Linked DNA regions of Homo sapiens: region 1 is linked to region 2. The links come from fine-mapping of genetic effects on gene expression. A gene starts in region 2. The other region holds a variant in brackets. All regions are shown on one strand. Distances are between the middles of the regions.

Region 1 (2,921 bases), 290 kb after region 2:
CTCTCACTTGTATTGAGCTGCAGTATGCCTAATAGTCCCGGCTATACCCTCAAGGTCATTCTGCACTAGACTAAAGCCTCTTCTCCTGACAGCCCCTTAGATACTCGAAGACAGCTATTGGGTCTCTGTTGAGGCTTTCCTTCTCCAAGCAAAATAGCCCCAGTTCCTTTAACTGTGTCTTCTATAATTTACTGACGAGTATCTGTATCGTCCTGTGGACCTCCCTTACGAATGTGCTTCAGTTTACCTGTGTACCCGTTAAAGTGTAACATTCAGAAAGGAAAATCACACAACAGCCCGACAGCCCGGAGCAAAGCAAGCTGGTCACTGGCATCATTGAAGACAGGAGAACTGATCAATGACACCTACCTCAACATAAGAATTTTAGTGGTCATGGCACATCTGTCACTCATTTTGCGCTTACAGTTTACCGAGATCTCAAAGTCTTGTGAATGTGTTTTTTTTTCTTTACCCGTGATATTCAGTTAAACTGCATCTCTCCAGATTGTGCTTGTGAGGTTGACTTTTTAAAAGCAAGGCACAGCTGGGTGCAGTGGCTCAGGCCTATATTCCCAGCACTTTGGGAGGCTGAGGTGGGCAAATCACCTGAGGTCAGGAGTTCAAGACCAGCCTGAGCAACGTGGCGAAACCCCATCTCTACTAAAAATACAAAAACTAGCCAGGCGTGGTGGCACACACCTGTAATCCCAGCTACTCGGGAGGCTGAGGCAGGAGAATCGCTTGAACCAGGAGGCGGAGATTGCAGTGAGCCAAGATCATGCCACTGCACTCCAGCCTGGGCAATAGAACAAGACTACGTCTCAAAAAAAATTAAAACAAAAATAAAAGCAAGGCATAGAACCACACTTTTATTTTTCCTATTCAATATTATGTTGTGAGATACAGCTTATCTCTCCAACCTGTCCCTCCAGCCTCTCAGCAGGCTCTCTGCCTTGTTCCAGGAAGCCCCTGCACATTCTCTCTGTTCCCTTTAAGGCTGTAATAGTTGCCTTGTTCCCAGGAGACTCCATAATGCACATCTTCCTCCTGGGGCTGGAAATCGATGTCTTTGCAGCAACATTCCTTACTGTTCTCTCCTTCTTCTCTAAAATATCAAGCTTGCTCCATTCATTCCTTCAACCAGTATGTAATGACTGGCTCAATATCAGGCCCATAGACCATGTGGATACACTCTTGGACAAAGGAGACATGGTCTCTGCTCCCATGGAAGAGGTTACCCAGCTGAAGGGACAGTCAGTTAACAAATAAACAAACAGTGGCCCTATCACTTCGTTAGTGAAAAGGGAAATAGAATGGAATGAC[G/A]AAACCTTGTGGGGAAAGAAGGGATATGTTTAAGGAAGTCCCACAAGGGGCTGATTCTCAGTTCCACTGTGTGGCTGACTTCTTCCAGTTGGCCTCCAGGTCAGCTTCTTTCACTCCCCATTGTCTTGCCCATTAGATGCCTCATGCCCTTCTGCCTTATCAAAATCTTAGGCATTTGGCCTCCTTGCATCTTATTAATTCTTCCTTCTAACTCTGAGAAAACCCTATGACTGCTTTACTTGGATTTAGCAAAGGTCAATACAAGAGGAGACTGGCAAATTGGTGGTGGTACATAGACTGCCATGCTCGCGGGCTGAATAGCTCTTGTGCTCTCTGTAACTTTGGACTCTCAACTCAGATAGCTATATTTCTATCTTATTTTTCTCCCTTTTGAGGTCATTTTGATCATTTGTTTTCTCTCAGAAAATGAAATTATTTCATCCAGATGTCAAATGTATTTTATATAATTAATCTCTTTTTTAATTTTTTATTTTCTCAGTTTCTATAATTATATCCATAATATTGTTCCTTAATTGGTATATTTGTGGTTTTATTATTTTCCCCATGATTCGATTAGTAACAGTTTATTTGATTTCTTTGTTTGGTTTTTATTTTTTCCCAGAGAACTGACTCTTGCATTTATTTATTAGTTTTACTCTAGTTTTTTTTTTTACGTACAATTTTACTTTTAATTTTACTCTTTCATTCAGTTCCTTTTAAATTTTATTCCTTTTATGACTTAAGTTGGATGCATGATTTATTTATTTTCATTGCTTTATAAGGATATATTCCTTCTTTGTGTTTTCATAAGGATGATAACTGAAAGGACACCAACATGTGCAGTCAGAGTCCAACTTTATTTAATGTCATTAAAGAATACAAATCATACAGAGGATAGCACAGAGTAGAAACCCAATGGTATCCTCCTCTACTCATTAGCAGGATTTTATTTTTCTCTTTCGTTTCTCTTCTGATCTCTACAAGCTCATGTTTCATCATCATCTTGCCTTGCCCAATTTCTCTAGAGTTCTTATATTTCTGCTTTGATCTCTTGTTTTATAGAGGTGATGGCTTTGCTGTGTATTTTTTAAATTTTGTGATTATTTCTGATTGGTCATGTTTATCATTTGCTCTGAACCAGGCTTTTTCTCATGAGTATTCTTCATCTGCTATCGCTTTGTTTTTCTATGCCTTTGCTCTCATTTGTCTGATATTTACTTGGTATACATGTTATGCCAATTCCTTTTCAATTACTGCTCACCACTGAATGAGATGAGTTCTTCCTGAACTGGAAGCTGCTAGAGGCTCTGTTTCCAAGGTACCAAACACACCCCAGTTCCAGCATGGTATGTGTGAGTAAATTCTTCCCCAGCTACCAGAGAGCAGCAACAGCAGGCTGCTCACAAAACAGAATTCCTCTCTGCTATCCTGCCTCATTGAGCAATTGCTCCCTTCAGTCTGTGACATGTGTTCTCTTTCCCTGACTTTACCTTGATGCCAGATGGGATCACATGTACTTTCTGCCACCAGCCATGCAGTGCATACTGGTGTTCCAAACAAAGCATTGGAGTTTTGCCTCATGCCACCGCCCCTGCTTT
Region 2 (2,921 bases):
ATGTTTTTCACACACAAATTATTTTTCTATTGGACTCAAAATACAAAGCATATGCATTTCAATAGCAGTGGATTGAAATTGTTTGAGTTCATATTGAATTTATGAATGAAGAAAAGAAAGTTTTACCACTAAATTTGGAATGTTGGAAGTTATTTTAAAAACCAGCTTGAAAGTTTTTTCACAGCCTGAAGAGTAGAGAATAAAACTGTATGAATAATTCATAAAGTCCTAGAAATATTAATCAAGTAGTTTAGACAGTGATATATCTTTTCATTTTGACTAATTGATTTTTTTTTTCTTAAACTTCCTGGCCAACTGTCTAATTTTTTGTCCTGAATGTTTATGTTAACTCCTGTGGGAGAATTCTGGATTTTGATTAAAATTCCCTACCAAATGTTAGTTCGTATTGACTATATGGCGAGCAGGCTGCTGCTGGCAGATGAGGAGGTGTGCTCCGCCTTCTTATCACTTTGTGAATGGATTGTGAAGGGTTTGTTAATTTGCTCTTCACTCCATTGGAGCAGATACTCACAAATATCTGCTATGTCGCAAGACCGTTTTATTTGCATAATGAGAAGAATGGTTTGGGGGATGGTTGTTTGGGAAATAGTATAATAAAGTATATTAAAAATAGAAATACTTGGCCTTGTTTGCCTTTATTTCTGGTATCTTTAGAAACAGTCTTGACTGTGTTGCTTTCCAGCCAAGTCCTTTTTTGGAAGGGTGATTAAAGGGGCTGGGACTCCATCTGCCTGATTGTCTGCCTAGCCCTAACCCTTTCTTGTATTCCCTCTATAAACAGACACTGCCTTAACTCTCATAGGTTCAGGAAGTACCAAAGAGGTCTCTGTCCTAGAGCTGCTTCCCCGCTATAGGCAGAACTGTGATTCTTTCCTCAATCCCAAATATAAACGGCCCTCCCTCTTTTTCTTTCCTTTTTTTTTTTTTTTTTTTTGGTTGTTGTTTAAAGAACATAGTACATGACCCATGCATTTCTTCCTAAAGTAAGAGTGTAAGCATTTCACTTGCATTTCCCATTAAATGAGACATATAAAGGACACTGACTTGATGCTGAGAAGGAAAGGGGCTGATGGTGGCTGAACTGACTGGATACATCGCCTTTTGCCTTAAACAGAATGCACTGTTCAGTGCTTAGCGTTAGATTTATGGAATGGCTCCTCACACAGTGTCGTCCCTGCTTTGTACAATTTGGTGCTTTGTTGCTATCGAAACGGCATTACTTTCTAAGCCATTGTGATTGTGAAGGGGGAGGAGGCTGTGGCAGGCAGGGGTGGTAGTAGTAGTGAATGACACAGATTTGCCAGATGACATGTAGCGGACCTCTGCATCAGCCAAGAGGAATTAAGCTTTGTCACTCCCCACTGGGACTACCTTTCTCCTGGTATGTGCGCAAGGAATTCATATGCTGCTGCTGCTGCAGCCACCAGAGCAGAGAGCCTTGAGTACACTTTGCCACAGAAAGCAGTGAGCAAGAATGATAGCTGTCTCTTTTAAATGCCGTTGTCAAATTCTGAGGCGACTTACTAAAGGTATCGTGCTTTCCTTGTTATTCCCTCAGCGAGTCTGTTGCAGTATCCTATAAACACAGTTTAATGGTTTTTACTTTCAAATATGACTGCCTTTGCAATTTATTGTCAGGCAACAAAGAACTCAGTGAAATATGTATAGATACATATGTACAGGTAGACTCGGCTTTGCTTTCTGTCCTTACATCTCGGTTGTGTTCGTGCTGAAATTATGAAAGCAGCTTGTGTGATTTTTTTTTTAATGACTTCATTCTTTGCTGAAAAGAGAATGTGTTTGGGTCCGGTGCTGAAGTTATTGTGGGAAACCGTCATTTTGCATGCTGATTAACTGGCCAAAAGGAGTCAAGTGTGTGTTACTGTCCTTTCTATGATACATATACTAAATGCAGCTGGCAGATTCAGGACTCGCACAGCTGGTGGATCCACAGAATAATTGTTTGTTCTATGACTTTCCAACATCTTAAGAGCTTTTTCCCTGGACAGCTTTAATTTCTTTATGTGTTAGAATTGCATGTTCAGAAAAGTATGTAATTCCAAATGCTTTGGTCCTATGTAATACTAGAAGTTTATTTGAAAGTAAAAATCATTGCTCGGAATCTTATCATCAAGAATTACCAGCTTCAGATTGTCACTCTTAGAACTCTAAAATAGTAATTAAATTTCTCTGTAATATTTAAGGTATTATTTTATTTGAAACCATTCTGGATGTGCCATCTCGTTTACTTTGTGAGCATTCTATTGCAAAGTTAGTAAATGGATGCCTTAAAAATCCTGCCTTGTGTCCATATAGATATGTGAGCTCTCTTGCCTTATTTCCTTTAGATAGAACCTTCCTTAGAGAAAATTTATTATTTAAAAAAAAACTTCATTCTGAGTAAAAGTATTTAGTTGCAAATGCCTTTCTTTTTCAGCCTGTAATATAGAGTACTGTTGAGTAATTAATGGATATAATTATGTTCTAGAAGCTCTGAACCTATAAATATGTTAATGGATGCTATTTCTGTCAGTTTAGCTTGACATATCAGAATTCTTTGATCACCAGCAGTGCAGCTAAAAATGCAATTAATATTTTATCTGGCAGAAGAATGAGCACAAAGCAAATCATGAGAAATAGATCTTGAGTCAATAACAGGAAAGAGAATAAATACTGTAGACCAACTTACCGAATGCATTTGCAAGTTGTTTGGATAGCAGAGTGAGTCCTTTAAAAGGTACTTTGGGGGAAATGTAGGGAAGATTATACATTTTAAATTAGGCTATTAGCAGGAGGCTGTAAATTCTGTTTTGACTTTATCCTCTACAATTGGTACAGACGTACAATTTCTGTTTATAAATCATGACTAAGAGACTATCCTTTCTGTTACGGTTTTGGCT

The links. PIP is the estimated chance that this variant, and not a neighbour inherited with it, causes the effect.
Region 1: its variant is the best candidate, but not a certain one, in a credible set for the expression of GRIP1 in blood mononuclear cells (TOPMed, PIP 0.65).

What each region holds. Positions count from the first base shown.
Region 1 is chr12:66,387,149-66,390,069 of GRCh38, reverse strand. The region is part of intron 19 of GRIP1 (glutamate receptor interacting protein 1); the gene reads left to right. Among named protein-coding and RNA genes, the nearest start is that of HELB, 86 kb to the right of the region's middle. The variant G/A (reference allele first, on the strand shown) is at 1,324.
Region 2 is chr12:66,677,479-66,680,399 of GRCh38, reverse strand. GRIP1 (glutamate receptor interacting protein 1) reads left to right here and starts at 1,324. Exons shown (of 25, transcript NM_001366722.1): 1 at 1,324-1,550. The coding sequence starts at 1,496.